Linked DNA regions of Homo sapiens: region 2 is linked to region 1. The links come from fine-mapping of genetic effects on gene expression. A gene starts in region 1. The other region holds a variant in brackets. All regions are shown on one strand. Distances are between the middles of the regions.

Region 1 (8,327 bases):
CAAAAGAATCGCCTGAACCCGGAAGGCAGAGGTTGTGGTGAGCCGTGATGGCACCATTGCATTCCAGCCTGGGTGGTTAAGAGTGAAGCTCAGTCTCAAAAAAAAAAAAAAAAAAAAAAACATCAACAAAAAAAACCCCACAAACAAACAAACAAAAATGACATAAACACCAAGGAAAGTCTGTTTTCTCTAAATAGTCACCCAGGCTGGAATCAGTGGCACGATCTCAGCTCACTGCAACCTTTTCCTCCCAGATTGAAGCGATTCTGCTTGCCTCAGCCTACTTGAGTAGCTGGGATTGCAGGTGCACACGACCACACCTGGCTAATTTTTGTATTTTCAGTATTTTTAGCAGAGATGGGGTTTCACCATGTTGACCAGGCTGGTCTTAAACTCCTGACCTCAAGTGATCCGCCCGCCTCAGCCTCCCAAAGTGCTGGGATTACAGGCGTGAGCCACTGCACCCAGCTACTGTTGTCTTATTTATTTAGAGACACGGTCTTGTTCTGTTGCCCAGGCTGGAATGCAGTGGCACGAGCATGGTTCACTGCTGCCTTGACCTTCCAGGTTTAAGCAATCCTCCCGCCTCAGCTTCCTTAATAGCTGGCACTACAGGTGTCCGCCACCACACCAGGCTAATTTTTTTTTTTTTTGTAAAGATGGGGTTCTATGTTGTCCAGGCTGATCTCAAACTCCTGGGCTGAAGTGATCCTACCCTCTCCGTCTTCCAAAGTGCTGAGATTACACACGTGAGCCACCGGCCTTTCCTTGTGTCTTACTTAAAAGTAATACTCGGCCGGGCGCAGTGGCTCACGCCTGTAATCCCAGCACTGTGGGAGGCCAAGGCAGGTGGATCACCTGAGGCCGGGAGTTTGAGACCAGCCTGACCAACATGGTGAAACCTTGTCTTTACTAGAAACATGAAATTAGCCAGGCGTGGTGGCACATGCATCCAATCCCAGCTACTCAGGAGGCTGAGCCAGGAGAATCGCTTGAACCCGGGAGGCAGAGGTTACAGCGAGCCAAGATCGCATCATTGCACTCCAGCCTGGGCAACAAGAGCGAAACTCCGTCTCAAAAACAAACAAACAAAAAAAGTAATACTCTACTATGCTTCAGCTAACTTTGGACAGAGCACACAGGGAGGGGCAAGGACGCTTTAAACAGTATCTGGGAAGTGGGGCCACTTACCTGATAGGCATTTCTAAGGAATAGAATGGATTCTTGAGGGCAAAGTCTGAGTAAATCTCATAAATCTTTCGGAGAAGAGAATCTATTCCAGCTTGCCTAGGATCTGCTAGAACCACAAACTTGATCCCTGGAGAGAGACCAAGAATGGTTACCAAAGCGTAGACACTGGAGCAAATAGTGTCATCCTGTATTTGTACAGCACTTTCAATTTTGCAAAACACTTTCATAAGCCTATTTTAATTTTATTCTTTTTACCACATAATGCAGGAAAGGCAAGACTTTGAATCTACCGATGAGACCAGAGAAGTGAAGTAACTTTGTTATGTCACCCACCTGATTAAGACCAGGCTTTGAGTTCTAGCTCTGCCACTTACTAACAGTTTTGGAGTCCCTCAGCAGAAACATTGCCAGGCAGGGGACAAAGTCAGGCAGTTTTCAATAAATGAAGAGGGTGAAGCAATGACACTGGCAATCCAAAGGTCATATCCATTTTGCTTTCAAATTTCATTTTGGAAAAACACTTAACACCTTCCAAAGTACACGCAACAGGAAATAGCATTAAGGTGAGTTTTATCTGAACACAAGATAACCTCTGCTGAACATGCTGGGTGGCATGGACAAAATCAGTTTCAGATTAAATATTGGTTTTGTATTCACAAAACAAACAAACAGATGTGTCTATAAAATTGTGCCAGGAAGGCCGGGCGCGGTGGCTCATGCCTGTAATCCCAGCACTGTGGGAGGCAGAGGCAGGTGGATCACCTGAGGTCAGGAGTTCGAGACCAGCCTGGCCAACATGGTGAAACCCCATCTCTCCTAAAAAATACAAAAATTAGCTGGGCGTGTGGCGGATGCCTGTAATCCCAGCTACTCAGGAGGCTGAGGCAGGAGAATTGCTTGAACCCGGGTAGTGGTGGCTGCAGTGAGCCAACATCGCGCCACTGCACTCTAGCCTGGGTGACAGAGCAAGACTCCATCTCAAAACAAGACAAAACAAAAAAACCCCACAAAAAATTAGCTGGGTGTGGTGGCGGGCATCTGTAGTCTCAGCTACTTGGGAGGCTGAGGCAGGAGAATTGCTTGAACCCAGGAGGTGGTGGCTGCAGTGAGCCAAGATCATGCCACTACACTCCAGCCTGAGTGGCAGAGTGAAACTGCATCTCAAAAAAAAAAAAAAAAAAAAGAACTGTGGGTCGGGTGTGGTGGCTCACGCCTGTAATCCCAACACTTTGGGAGGCGGGCAATCACCTGAGGTCGGGAGTTTGAGACCACCATGACCAATATGGAGAAACACCATCTCTAATAAAAACAGAAAAATTAGCCGGGTGTGGTGACACATGCCTGTAATCCCAGCTATTTGGGAGCCTGAGGCAGGAGAATCGCTTGAACCCAGGGGGCGGATCATGCCCCTGCATTCCAGCCTGGGCAACAAGAGTGAAACATTTCAAAAAAAAAAAGAATTGTGCCAGGAAAAGCACACCCCCTCTTCTTGCTTACCAAAGGTGTCTTTGGTCAACCCCCTCCTCCCACCTTCTCCACCACACTCCTCTGGCCCACCTGGAGATGCAAACTTATCAGTATCTCTTCCCCACCTTCTCCATCACACTCCTCTGGCCTCCGTGGAGATGCATACCTGTCAGTGTCTGGTAGCAGTGCAATTTGAATGTGTCTGTCTCCAGCATCTCAATGCCTGAGCTTCCCTGTTCAGGAGACAGCTGGGAGCCGATGGCAAAGAGCCTATATGCAAAGGAGGCAAAGTTGCTCTAAGGAAGGAGTGCTTCTCAAACTTCCACTGAAGTGTCCCTATTTGCTGAGGAGTTCACATTACAGCCTGGGACAGTCAGGAGAAGTAGTGTGAACTGACTGGCAGTAGTGTCAAAATTTCTAAGTTCATTTGAATTCTGTGAATATTTTACATTCATACTTTGTTACAAGACATTTTACATCTAAAACTTTGGGTAAAATGAATACTCTAGGAATATGTGCCACGCTTACTAAGCTTGTGTTTAAGCAAAGGCCGGCACATCTGATATCACAATTGAGAGCAGAAAAAGTTTAAAGGTCATTTAGTTAAACTGGCTTTCTTTAAATATGAAGAAACTAAGGCTCAGAGAAGAGAAGTTGACTTTAAGTAAGATGACACCTCGGCCGGGCGCGGTGGCTCACTCCTGTAATCCCAGCACTTTGGGAAGCCGAGGCAGGTGGATCACCTGAGGTCAGGAGTTTGAGACCAGCCTGGCCAACATGGCAAAACCCCTCTCTACTAAAAATACAAAAATTAGCTGGTCGTGGTGGCACGCGCCTGTAATCCCAGCTACTCGGGAGGCTGAGGCAGGAGAATCGCTTGAACCTGGGAGGCAGAGGCTGCAGTGAGCCGAGATCCCGCCACTGCGCTCCAGCCTGGGTAACTCCGCGGCCCCTCCCCACCCAGCAAAAAAAGATGACACCACTGCCGTTATTACCTAAAATCTAGATCTGGATCGGTTGCGTTTTTCATAACACCAGAACGACGATTTAAGAAAAGGTAGACAAATTACAAGCGCTGCCGTTCAGGAGACGGGGGACTTACGAGTGGAACATGGAGGCCAGCATAAGCTTCTCATTAGAAGTGAGGCGGGGCCGGCCAAATCGAATGGACACCGGGTAATTAGCAGGGTTACCCAGATACTCCAGCACCTCTTTCCCGTCGGCCGTGTACCTGCCATTCACGTCCATGCCATTGATGGCCAGCACTGCATGACCCACTGCAGAGGTGAAGCTAACGGTCAGCGAAGGTGCAGCCCGGGGATTCCGCCGAGGGGACAAGGGACCCGACACAACCCCTTTTCCCCCAACCCCGCACCTACAACCAGCCCACTTCTACAGCACTGGGGCCCTCCCACCCCCGCACCCGCCACGGGCCCGAGCCTAGCCCACCTCGGATGCCGTCCCGCTGGCCGAAAGCAACCAACACACGCTCATCGTGTAGCTTGAGCAGCAGATCCAGCGGATAACTGAAAGTTTTCTCAGCCTCAGCCCGTGGCGCGTAGCTGTCCAACTGGTAAATCAAGCCGCCAGCTTTGTTCACCACATACACACTAAAAATCGCCATCGCTGCCTTGCCGCTCGGAAACTGGTATTCAGCCTCTACCCGACGGCCCCTCCCCGGAACCGCATCACAGCACTTGCCGCCGGCCCCACCCCAGCCTCCTCCTCCTCCTCCTCCTCCTCCCGCGCCCCCCGTGCAGCCACCTGCTGCACTTGCGCACTGGGAGCGACACGCTCGGGCATAAGTAGTGCCGGAAAGTTAGCTGCCGAGACCTGGTGGATTGCTTTTCGTTTATCAGTGCAGGAAAACAGCGCTATAGTATGCGTCACAACTAGCGCAGACTCCGGCAGTATTTAGGCGGTGCGGCTTGGGAACTAGAATCCACTTCCTGTCTTCCGCCTCAGGCTAGAGGGCGAGCGCTTCGCCGTGGGACTTCTTCTGCCTGGCTCCGCCTTTTGCCCCGGAAGTACTCACAGCGGACGGTGGTTTTTGGGCCCGTTTCTGAGCAGCGCTTCCTTTTTGTCCGACATCTTGACGAGGCTGCGGTGTCTGCTGCTATTCTCCGAGCTTCGCAATGGTAAGCTTCAGGGGTGTGAAGTCGCCGGCGTTCTTGGGTTTGAGGACTCAGTGGGGAGAGCCTTCGGCGGGAGCGCTCCTTGGCCTGCCGGCCTCGGTTGCAGGGCGGGCGCGGTTATTGCTTGGCCCATGTGCTCTGGTGGTGGAGTTTGCGGGGGCTGAGGGCGCAGTATTAGGGGACTTTGGCGCTATTTGAGGACCTGGTTGCATTCCCGCTGCCCTCCTACAGCCGCCTAAGGACGACAAGAAGAAGAAGGACGCTGGAAAGTCGGCCAAGAAAGACAAAGACCCAGTGAACAAATCCGGGGGCAAGGCCAAAAAGAAGGTAGAAATAAGACCTCTCTGAAAGAGACTAGGGGTAACTCTCTCGTAATCCTCTAGTAATAGGTAACTTGTATAGTAAGTGGTTTTTCAGGTGTAGATTTCTAGAGTCAAAATGTGAGAGTTTATCTTCCCGTCACCACTCGTTCTTTTTCCCATTAGGATCATGAAAATGGGTCTGTTGTGCGAAGTGTCTGCCGCTGTGCCTGCTGTGTTATTTTTAACTGATCTAGTGGGGCTCGGCCCCTGTTTGAAGGCCAAAAACGTGTCGGTGTTTTTTTTTTGTTTTTGTTTTAGTAATGTGTAATTTATCCTTGATAACGGTGGAACAGATTTCTCTGACGCAGATTACTCGAGAGGGAAAGGGTGCTTCTGCCAGAAATACTAACTTGTTTCTGTTTTGTTTTGGTGAGCAGAAGTGGTCCAAAGGCAAAGTTCGGGACAAGCTCAATAACTTAGTCTTGTTTGACAAAGCTACCTATGATAAACTCTGTAAGGAAGTTCCCAACTATAAACTTATAACCCCAGCTGTGGTCTCTGAGAGACTGAAGATTCGAGGCTCCCTGGCCAGGGCAGCCCTTCAGGAGCTCCTTAGTAAAGGTGAGGGGTGTATCCTACATGTGTGTTTTTGTAGGTTAAATTGTCTTGACCATGTTAAGCATCTTCAGTGGTTTTGCTGGAAAAGCAGAATTAAAAAAAAAAAGCGTGGCTTGACCATTGGCTGTTAGTAATGTAATTCTGACGTCTTACTCCTGATCCTGAGATGAATTCTCAGGGTTCTTAGCCACTTTTGTGCCGTGGACCCTGTGGCAGTTTAGTGAAGCCCAAGGATCTTTTATGTTTCGAGTAAATGGATGCATAGAATTACAGGGACAACCGTTTTTGAAATAATTAGATTACTATTTTGAAACAACTTTGAAAATGTTTAAAACCTTTATGGTAAATATTTTGTTGATGTATTAAATTTTAAAACCAGAAATTTAGTACGGTCTACTCAGTAGTATGGTCTGATTACCATAATTCCACAATAATAAGGCTCAGCTAACTATAGTGACTGAACGTCTATAATTCTAGCACTTTGGGAGGCCAAGGCGGGTGAATCAACGGAGGTCAGGAGTTAAAGACCAGCCTGGCCAATATGGTGAAAACCTGCTCTACTGAAAGTTAGCTGGACGTGGGGGCACACGTCTGTAATCCCAGCTACTCAGGATGCTGAGGCATGAGGATCCCTTGAACCCAGGAGATGGAGGTGGCAGTGAGCCGAGATGACACCACTGCACTCCAGCCTTAGTGACAGCAAAAGACTGTCTCAGAAAGGGGGGGGGGGTGGAAGATAATGGAGCCCTAATTTAAAGGAAAAGTAAGGATAGATGATCGTTAAAAACTAGGATTCTCGGTTACCGAACGTCAGATTAAGCAATTCTGGAGCCAGGTGCAGTGGTACCCTTGTATTTCTAGCTACTTGGGAGGCCAAAGCAGGAGGATCATTTGAGCCAAGGAGTTTTAAGACCATTCTGGGCACCTCTGAGAGAACTCTGTCTTTTTGTTTTCCTTTTCTTTAAATAGAGATGCGGTTTTGCCATGTTGCCCAGGCTGGTCTCCTGGGCTCAAGAGATCCACCTGTCCAAAGTGCTGGGATTACAGGCATGAGCCTCTGCACCCGGCCAAAACAAACCTTACTAGAGTCTCATTCTGTTGCCCAGGTTGGAGTGCGGAGGGGCAGTCTTGGCTCAATGCAACCACCAATTCCTGGGTTCAGGTGGTCCTCACCTCAGCTTCCCAAGTAGCTGGAATTACAAGCATGTGCCACCATGCCCAGCTAATTTTTGTATTTTTGGTAGAGATGGGGTTTCACCTTGTTGGCCAGGCTGGTGTGCAACTCCTTACCTCAAGCTATCTGCCCGTCTCCACCTCCCAAAGCAGTGGGATTATAAGCATGAGCCACCGCGCCCAGCCAAAAACCTTACTAGTTTCTATTGTAGCATCTGTTAAGCATCTCATCGTGCTATTCTCTCCCCCTAGGACTTATCAAACTGGTTTCAAAGCACAGAGCTCAAGTAATTTACACCAGAAATACCAAGGGTGGAGATGCTCCAGCTGCTGGTGAAGATGCATGAATAGGTGAGTAGGAATGTGTGGGCTCATGGTGTAGGAGGTAGATACAAAGCTTTATGGTTCTGATTCTTTTAATTTTTTTTTACAGGTCCAACCAGCTGTACATTTGGAAAAATAAAACTTTATTAAATCAAATGAATGAGTATGTCTGTTTCCTAAGAAAGACAATGATAAAGAATTTGGTGGAAGGTATAATAGGGGTTTGTTGACTTTGCTTTTAGCCTCATGGTAGTTGGTAGAGAGCATGATTAGCTTTTTTCTGTATGTGACTGCTTCTTCATTGCTGCAGCTTCAGTTTTGAATTGATGTCTGAAAGGAAATAAAGGGTTAACACGATGATGAAGGGTGACATCTCCAAAAAGGAGGTTGGATGGGTAGGTTGGAGACCCGGCACTGAACACACATACCTGGACTGCCAGCGGCGTCCATTATTCCAGACGCGGCCAAAAGAGGGCAGCCAGCCTGCACTGGTCCTGGAGCTGTGATCAAAGTTGGCCCCAACTCGGTCTGGGGGGAGTTTTTTCAACTTCTGTTTTTCCTCTGTACAATGATAGGGAAACTTTTATTTTTCTTTATTGAAGAATATAGAGATGGGGTCTCACTATGTTGTCCAGGCTGTTTTCAAACTTCTGGGCTCAAGTGACCCTCCCACCTCAGCCTCCCAAAATGCTAGGATTATAGCCATGAGCCACCACACACAGGCAAGGAAACCATTTTTGAGTGTGAAGATTTAGACGATCCTCTCTTGAATTAGTTTACTTACTTTCTTTAAGAAATTCTTCATAGGATGGTCCTATTTCTTGGTTCCCAGCAATGTATTCTTCATCTTGGATCATCCAGGGAGGTGTGGCACCTGAAAAAAAAATTAAGGCTTTTTTTTTTTTTTTTAAGTCTTCAGGCTATTGTGAAACATGTCCTAGCTGTTAGCTTACCTCTCCTCATTAAGAGCTAGAAATGTCTAAAAGCAAAGCCCAGGAATTCTGGAGCTTTAGAAGGCCCTAGGCTAATTTAAAGCGACATACCCCATATGTGACAGTCATTTTAAAATGGCTTTGAGGCACAACTGACATAAACGATACACACTTAAATTTGGTGA
Region 2 (8,327 bases), 46 kb before region 1:
CCTGCTGGGACTCACCAAGGGGTTGATGCCCTCTTCATCTTCTCCAACAGATGCCAGAATATTGTGCTGCTTCAGTTGGTACAGGTGTGTCACCCGTAGTTTGTAGGCTTGGAAGCCTGTAAGCTGTAGGGAACGTGGCAAGAACCAGATCTGGCCTTCCATATGTGCAGGGTAGTCAAGGAGCCTCCTTTCCAAGGAGAGATACTTACATTCAGACCAGAACTCAGATAACAATTACATGTATATAACTCTAAAATTTTCAAGGATTTTCCCACATACTCCTTATCTTAAAAAGAGTGAGGCCAGGCGCGGTGACTCACACCTGTAATCCCAGCACTTTGGGAGGCCGGGGGGGGGGGGGGGTGCGGATCACCTGAGGTCAGGGGTTCGAGACCAGCCTGGCCAACATGGTGAAACCTGTCTCTACTAAAAATACAAAAATTAGCCAGGTATAATGGTGCGTGCCTGTAATTTCAGCTACTCAGGAGGTTGAGGCAGGAGAATTGCTTGAACCCGGGAGGCGGAGGTTGCAGTGTGCCCAGATCATGCCATTGCACTCCAGCCTGTGCAACAAGAGTGAAAGTCCGTCTCAAAAAAAAGAAAAAAATTTAGTGCGCCGGGCGCGATGGCTCACTCCTGTAATCCCAGCACTTTGGGAGGCCGAGGCGGGTGGATCACGAGGTCAGGAGTTCGAGACCAGCCTGGCCAATATGGTGAAACCCCGTCTCTACTGAAAATGTAAAAAATTAGCCGGGTGTGGTGGCAAGCGCCTGTAGTCCCAGCTACTCGGGAGGCTGTGGCAGGAGAATCGCTTGAACTCAAGAGACGGTTACAGTGAGCCCAGATCCCGCCACTGCACTCCAGCCTGGGCAACAGAGTAAGACTCCGTATCAAAAAAAAAAAAAAAAAAAAAAAGGTAAAAAGGCCAGAATTTAGTAGCAGCAACATGAAGATGAAAGCAACAAACCGCTAGGCTCATTTACCTCCTCGCCAACGATAATATTAGGGCAGGGGAAATCATGTCACTTTACATATTCATCTTTTAAAGCCAACTTGCATTCTTTTTCTTATTGATCTCAAATTAACCTCGTCAAATTGGCATGCACACATCTCCTACAGATAAGGAAATTAAAACCCAGAGAGGTTAAATGACTTGCCCAGGATTGCTCAGTTGATAACAAGTTAGGAGATGGACTTCCTTCTTTCTTCCCGTAGACCACAGAACAACTCTGGATGACCAGCTAAACCAAAGAGGCGCGCGGCACGGACCCCTCCGACAAACAGATTTCATCCTAACTCGATCTCTTCGGGATCCCGGGAGGGAAAAGACAGCTCCAAACGAAGGATATCTCCAAAGACCAGGCTCCCTCGGCCTGAGTCGCAGACAGTGATGCCAGGAGGGAGGCAAAGGAACTTGGAAGCAGCGGATCCAGAAGCAGGTGTGGCCCCGGGAGCGGCCCCATCATTGCTCAGCGGCTCCTTCACCAGCTCCTTGTCGAAGAAAACGAAGCGCCGCCACTGCAGGTAGGCCGCCATTTTGGCCCAGGGCTCCCACCTCCGGGAGCTTTGTCACGTGAGCTGAGCCAGCGAATCACGTGGTCGGCAGCTTCCGGGAGCCCGCGGGCCCAGGAGCTCCTGAGTCGGGGTGACAGCGTCCCGCTGCTGGGAAAGTGGGCGGGGCCGCGCGGGGTAGTCCTAGATCTGCAGTGTGCGAGTTTGCCGGATGTGACTGTAACTTCGCTAGCTAAAATGCTTGAGAGCGGACCCTTCATCCCTTTGAGCATGTTTCTTCCTAAAATGCGCGGATACCGGGAGATCAAGATGAGGGATGTCATGTGCCTTGTGAACTGTCACCCGCCGTGCGTAAGTGAATGACGTTTTGACCTCACAGGACTGTTTTGGGGCATAAATGAAACAGTGTATGTTAAACCAGGTTTTCGGCTGTATGAGAGGAGAAATAAAATTAGAAGTTTGTGTCTGCCACCACGCAGATTGTGAACCATAGTCAATGTTTTATATTCGTTTTTGTTTCCCCCGTCAGAGCGTATGACACCTAACAGACGCTCAAAACGTTTCTTAAGGAAACGGGCTGGGCGCGATGGCTCATGCCTGTCTGTAATCCCAGCACTTTGGGAGGCCGAGGTGGGGGAATCACTTGAGCCCAGGTGTTCGAGACCAGCCTGGGCAACATGGTGAAACCCCATCTCTACAAAAAATACAAAAATGAGCCTGGCATGGTGGTGGACACCTGTGGTCCCAGCTACTTGGGAGGCTGAAGTGGGAGGATCGATTGAGCCCCGGAGTTGGAAGCTGCAGTGAGCTGTGATCGAGCCGCTGCACTCCAGCATGGGCGACAGAGCAAGACCTTGTCTCAAAAAAAAAAAAAGGAAACTGGGAAATACTGGTGGGGCAGGAATTCCCAAGGCCCTGGGCTTTCTCCCCCTTTCATAGTGGCAGGGTAGGGGACATAGAACTGAGCAAAAACCTGGAAGTGGCAGCTTTGAGAGCTGAGTGTTTTAATGAGAAGTGGCAGGTGTCCAAGATATTACATGATCATTCTCCACTCCCAACTCTGGCTAAACCATCTTTGAATCCAAGCAAGATCTATCCTCATGGACAACTACTGCAGGTTTACTGTTTGTGTGCCATGAGAACCTATAGACAGAAGTGACATAGCATCATTTTGAGATGGTAGGGACATATGGAAAAGTGACCCTGTGGTATTTGTGAAGTTTATTGTTTGCACTCCCCCAACTTCCTTTTTTTTCTTTTTTCTTTTTTTTTTTTTTTTTTTTTAGACAGAGTCTCTCTCTATCCCCCAGGCTGAAGCGCAGTGGCACAATCTCAGCTGACTGCAACCTCCGCCTCCCGAGTTCAAGCGATTCTTATGCCTCAGCCTCCTGAGTAGCTGGGATTACAGCTGCCTGCCACCACGCCTGGCTAATTTTTGTATTTTTAGTAGAGTTGGGGTTTTGCCATTTTGGCCAGGCTGGTCTCGAACTCCTGACCTCGGGTGATCCACCCGCCTCGGCCTCCCAAGTACTGGAATTACAGGCGTGAGCCACCGCACCCGGCCCTCCCCCAACTTATTTCAGAATATTTGATGCTGTATTTCCACCAGCCAGAGTTCCCTGAGAGCGGGGGCTACATCTTGTACCGTAACTGTGAACGAGGCCTAGCAGAGCCTGGTAGAAGTTCCATGTTTGGTTGAAGGAATGAATGTGGTGTGGATGCCTCTCCTCTTATCCACTCCTCTCCTCAATCTGGTTGATGGGCAGGTGGCGTCCATTTGTCTGAAGAGGTAAATGATAGGAAGAAACTCTAGCCACCACCATGCACACAGATTTCCTGACTTCCAACTCAAGTTTCTTTCCTCTTCATCACACAGGATATCTCCAATTCATTGCAACTGTTTCAGGATACCAACTGTTGGGCAGAAGCACAAATGGGAGCGGGTTGAACCCACTTTCACCTACTGAGCATATTCCATACTGGTCATCAGAATGTTTAGATAGTATGTTAATATGTCAGTTGTTAAGCCTATGAAGAATATATGTTAAAAGAAGCAATGTGGCCAGGCAAGCTGGCTCATGCTTGTAATCCCAGCGCTTTAAGAGGCTGAGGCAGGAGGATCCCTTGAGGCCAGGAGTTCAAGACCAGCGTGGGCAACAGGCTTCAAAAAAGAAGAAATGTAAAAGCAGAGATGTGAACAAGAGATAGAGTGCATCTTTGTTGCTTGGGTGCTCCCCCTGTTGTCCAATGGCAGAAGCTCCACGTCTTCCTCTGAGGGCTGAATCTGGTTCTACTTGTGCCCATTGGATCCTCTTATTGATGAGGGTTACAAAGGCCGAGATTGGCCTGCCAGAGAGACCCACAGCACCTCTTCAGACTTACTACCTTCTTTCCTTTCCTTCTTTTGACAAATATGTATTGAGCACTCCTAGTCCAGGAATTGTACCAAATGCCCAGAATATAAATGAACAAGACATGGTCCTCAACCACCACCCTAGAGACAGGCATAAAAAGAACTGACAGTAACAAGCCCCTAATTTCATGTAGTAAATTATATCTAATAAAGTGCCTTCGCTTTTCATGGAATCTTCGTAGCAACCATCTGCAGAAGAGGTATCATTATCCCTGATGAGAAATGGAGTCTCAAAGAGTTTAACTTAAAGTGGCTCTCTCTGGGCAAAAACTTCAAAGTTCTTTGGAAATAAAATGAGTAATTCAGTCCCCTACCCTCTAATTAGATAGTTTGATGGGTGTAAAGCTAGATTATGCTTGTCAGAACATACACCAGGGTTTGTCTCTTAGTTACACTGGTCTGAACCCAGGAATTTCAGGATAGTGAGGAATATAACCAAGCAAATTACACAGAAAATGACTGTTCACTTACAGTTAGTTCTGCATACTGAGAACTCGAGTTCTGAATGGACTAAAGATAAAGAAGAAATACAAGTCTTTAGTTTCGAATTAGAGAGGTCATAACTCAGAATCAAGAATGCAAGAATTGTCTTGCAGTATTTTCTTTTCCCTTTAGCAAACTGCTGCCCATGATATAAAACAGTTACATCCACTGGAACAAAACAGGAACACTTCTTGTCCCAAATGCAAACTTTAATTTATTTTTATCTTATTTTATTTTATTTTTGAGA[C/T]GGAGTCTCGCTCTGTCGCCAGTCGTCAGGCTTGAGTGCAGTGGCGTGATCTCGGCTCACTGCAACGTCCGCCTCCCAGGTTCAAGTGATTCTCCTGCCTCAGCCTCCTGTGTAGTTGCCTCAGCAAACTTTAATTTTCCGTTTTTATCATCTGGCTCTCCAGGTAGAAACTACCTTCTTTTCTTTTTGAGATAGAGTCTCCCTCCATTGCCCAGGCTGGAGTGCAGTGGCACGATCTCGACTCACTGCAACCTCTGTCTCGTCTCCCAGGTTCAAGCGATTCTTGTGCCTCAGCCACCCAAGTAGCTGAGACTACAGGCGCACGCCATCATGCCCGGCTAGTTTTTGTATTTTTTGTAGAGACATGGTTTTGACATGTTTCCCCGGTTGGTCTCAAACTCCTGGCCTCAAGTGATCCACTCGCCTCTGCCTCCCAAAGTGCTAGGATTACAGGCATGAGCCACCACGCCCGGCCTGTTGTTGTTTTAATGTTCTTCCAGTTTTCGTCAATAACCGCATATTTCTTTCGTTCTTTTTTGTTTTGTTTTGTTTTTTGAGACACGGCTAGAGTGCAGTGGCACAATCACGGCTCACCACAGTCTCCACCTCCTAGGCTCACGAGATACTCCCACCTCAGCCTCCCCAGTAGCTGAGACTACAGGCTCATGCCACCATGCCCAGTTAATTTTGTTGTTGTTGTACTTTTAGTAGAGACAGTGTTCTGCCCTGTTGCCCAGGCTAGTCACAAACTGCTAGGCTCAAGCAATCCACACGCCTCAGCCTTCCAAAGTGCTAGGATTACAAGTGTAAGCCACCATATTTCTTTCTTTTTTTTGGAGGCGGGGGCCGGGGAGACAGGGTCTCACTCTGTCGCCCAGGCTGGAGTGCAATGGCGCGATCTCAGCTCACCCCAACCTCTGCCTCCCAGGTTCAAGTGATTCTCCTGCCTCAGCCTCTCAAGTATCTGGGATTACAGGCACACACCACTACCACCCAGTTAATTTTTGTATTTTTACTAGAGACAGGGTTTCACCATGTTGTCCAGGCTGGTCTCAAACTCCTGACCACAAATGACCCACCCGCCTGGGCCTCCCAAAGTACTGTGAGCCACCGTGCCTGGCCCTAGCCACATATTTCTTTTGTAATTCTAAAAATATTGTTATAGAAGTAGGAAAAAATTTATCTTGGTTTATCTCCTGCTGAAAATGGGCTCTCTCCTGCCTAGGGTTACAGCAAAGTCAAACCTAGAGTCTCTTGAGGCCAGGCAAGGTGGCTTATGCCTATAATCCAGCACTTTGGGGGGCCAAGGTGGGAGGATTACTTGAGGCCTGGAGTTCAAGACCAGCTTGGGCAACATAGGCAGACCTCGTCTCTACTAAAAATAAATAAAGAAATAAGTAGTCAGGTGTGGTGATGTGCACCTGTAGTTCCAGCTACTTGAGAGGCTGAGGAGGGAGAATTGCTTAAGCCCAGGAGATGGAGGCTGCAGTGAGCTGTGATCACACCACTGCACTCCAGCCTGGGCAAGAGAGTGAGCACCCTGTCTCAAAACAACAACAACAACAAACCCTAGAGTTGTTTGTATGACAGACAAAATAATTTTTAAATGTTTTATTGAAGTAACAACATACAAAAAAGTTGTAGAGTAGTACAACCCACTGAAATTCCACAAACTAACTGGACACTCCCATCGTAATCAGCAATGAGAACATGGCTAGCAGCCAGGCACAGTGACTCAGGCATGTAATCCCAGTATTTTGGGAGGCCGAAGCAGGCAGATCACCTGAGGTCAGGAGTTCGAGACCAGCGTGGGCAACATGGTGAAACCCTGTCCCTACTAAATACAAAAATTAGCTGGGCATGGTGTTGCACGCCTACAGTCCCAGCTACTTGGGAGGCTGAGGCTGGAGAATGGCTTGAACCCCAGAGGCAGAGGTTGCAGTGAGCTGAGATTGTGCCACTGCACACAAGCCTGGGTGACAGAGTGAGACTCTCTCTCAAAAAAAAAGGAGTGGGGGGAACATATCTAGCACCCCTAGAAGCTTGCCTTATGTCCTCTTCTAAACCCTCCAGCTTGGGCAACAGAGCAAGACCCTGTATCTAAAGGATAGCAGCATCCTGACTTCTATCCCTGTAGCTTAGTTTTGCCAGCTTTTAAACTTGATATTTAAATCATACAGTATGTACTTGGGCTTCTTTCACTCAGTATTATGTTTGTAGAATTCATCTAAGTTGTCCTATGTAATAATAGTCCACTCATTCTTATTGCTGTATAGAATTCCACTGTATGAATCTCTGATTCATTTATCTATCCAATTGTTGATGAGCATTTGGATAGTTTTCAGCCCGGGGCTGTTATAAATAAAGCTATTACCAACAGCCTCTGGGTGAACATATGTTTACTTTTTTTTGTTGTTGTTGTGACAGAGTCTCACTGTGTCACCCAGGCTGGAGTGCAGTGGCACAATCTTGGCGCACTACAACCTCCACCTCTCAGGTTCAAGCAATTCTCCTGCCTCAGACTCCCCAGTACCTAGGATTACAGGTGCGTGCCACCACGCCGGGCCAATTTTTTTTTTTTTTTTTTTTTTTTGAGATGGAGTCTGGCTCAGTCGCCCAGACTGGAGTGCAGTGGCGCGATCTCGGCTCACTGCAACCTCCACCTCCTGGGTTCAAGCAATTCTTCTGGCTCAGCCTCCTGAGTAGCTGGGACTACAGGCACATGCCACCACCAATTTTTGTATTTTTAGTGGAGATGGGGTTTCACCGTGTTAGGATGGTCTTGATTTCCTGACCTCATGATCCACCTGCCTCAGCCTCCCAAAGTGCAGGGATTACAGGCGGGAGCCACCCCCAGCCGACAACTAATTTTTAAAAATTCTTCTGGTGTAGGATATTCTCTCTGATCAACACTGCCCTCAGCCCATCATGTAATTTGCATGGTTTATGTGCATATATACCCTCACCGATATGTCTATTTTACACCTCTGTCAGTTTGGCACATGTTCTGCAAGACGGCAACTTTCTTCCCTTAGGTTTCTGCAGTGTTGGGGAAGGGATATAGTCCTCCAATGTTAACAAGTTATTCTGGAGAAGAACCAATGAGTTCACCTGCCTAGGTCAATCTAAATCAGGTGTTTTACATTAAAAATTTCCCATTGTTCTTCAGCTTGTTCTTGTGAAATACTATTCTACCCTCTGGTCCCAGAACAAAACAGCTGACTCCTCAGAGCACTTGCACCTGCTTCACTACCCAGGGGGACAGATACCCAGGCTGAGAACTGTAGCTGTGGCAGAACCATGCTCCCACCAGGGGTATTCATGGTTGGAGCTCTCTTAGGAGCTTCGAGAGCTTTCTTCTTCTTCTTCTTTTTTTTTTTTTTTTTGAGACAGGGTCTCACTCTGTCGCCCAGCCTGGAGTACAGTGGTACAATCTCGGCTCACTGCAGCCTCTGCCTCCTGGGTTCAAGCAATTCTCCTGCCTCAGCCTCCTGAGTAGCTGGGATTACAGGCATGCACCACCACATTGGGCTAATTTTTTTGTATTTTAGTAGAGACGGGGTTTCACCATGTTGCCCAGGCTGGTCTTGAACTCCTAAGCTCAGACAATCTGCCTGCCTCGGCCTCCCAAAGTGCTAGGATTACAAGCGTGAGCCACTGTGCCCGGCCCCC

What was found.
Region 2: its variant is fine-mapped to the expression of RPS25 in whole blood (INTERVAL, PIP 0.94).

The regions. Positions count from the first base shown.
Region 1 is chr11:119,014,751-119,023,077 of GRCh38, reverse strand. It overlaps RPS25 (ribosomal protein S25), which reads left to right and starts at 4,735. Exons shown (of 5, transcript NM_001028.3): 1 at 4,735-4,796; 2 at 5,025-5,120; 3 at 5,533-5,716; 4 at 7,139-7,237; 5 at 7,320-7,361. The coding sequence starts at 4,794. The coding sequence ends at 7,233. It overlaps CENATAC (centrosomal AT-AC splicing factor), which reads right to left. Exons shown (of 11, transcript NM_198489.3): 9 at 7,995-8,084; 10 at 7,639-7,771; 11 at 7,285-7,540. The coding sequence ends at 7,480. It overlaps TRAPPC4 (trafficking protein particle complex subunit 4), which reads right to left and starts at 4,312. Exons shown (of 5, transcript NM_016146.6): 1 at 4,108-4,312; 2 at 3,761-3,935; 3 at 2,825-2,928; 4 at 1,192-1,318. The coding sequence starts at 4,282. RefSeq lists enhancers at 3,741-4,439, 4,694-4,923, 4,944-5,013 and a silencer at 4,334-4,453.
Region 2 is chr11:119,061,033-119,069,359 of GRCh38, reverse strand. VPS11 (VPS11 core subunit of CORVET and HOPS complexes) reads right to left here and starts at 1,542. Exons shown (of 16, transcript NM_021729.6): 1 at 1,350-1,542; 2 at 16-164. The coding sequence starts at 1,536. LOC124902769 (a long non-coding RNA gene) reads left to right here and starts at 1,605. Exons shown (of 2, transcript XR_007062917.1): 1 at 1,605-1,863; 2 at 3,389-4,098. RefSeq lists enhancers at 1,395-1,444, 1,505-1,554. The variant C/T (reference allele first, on the strand shown) is at 4,656.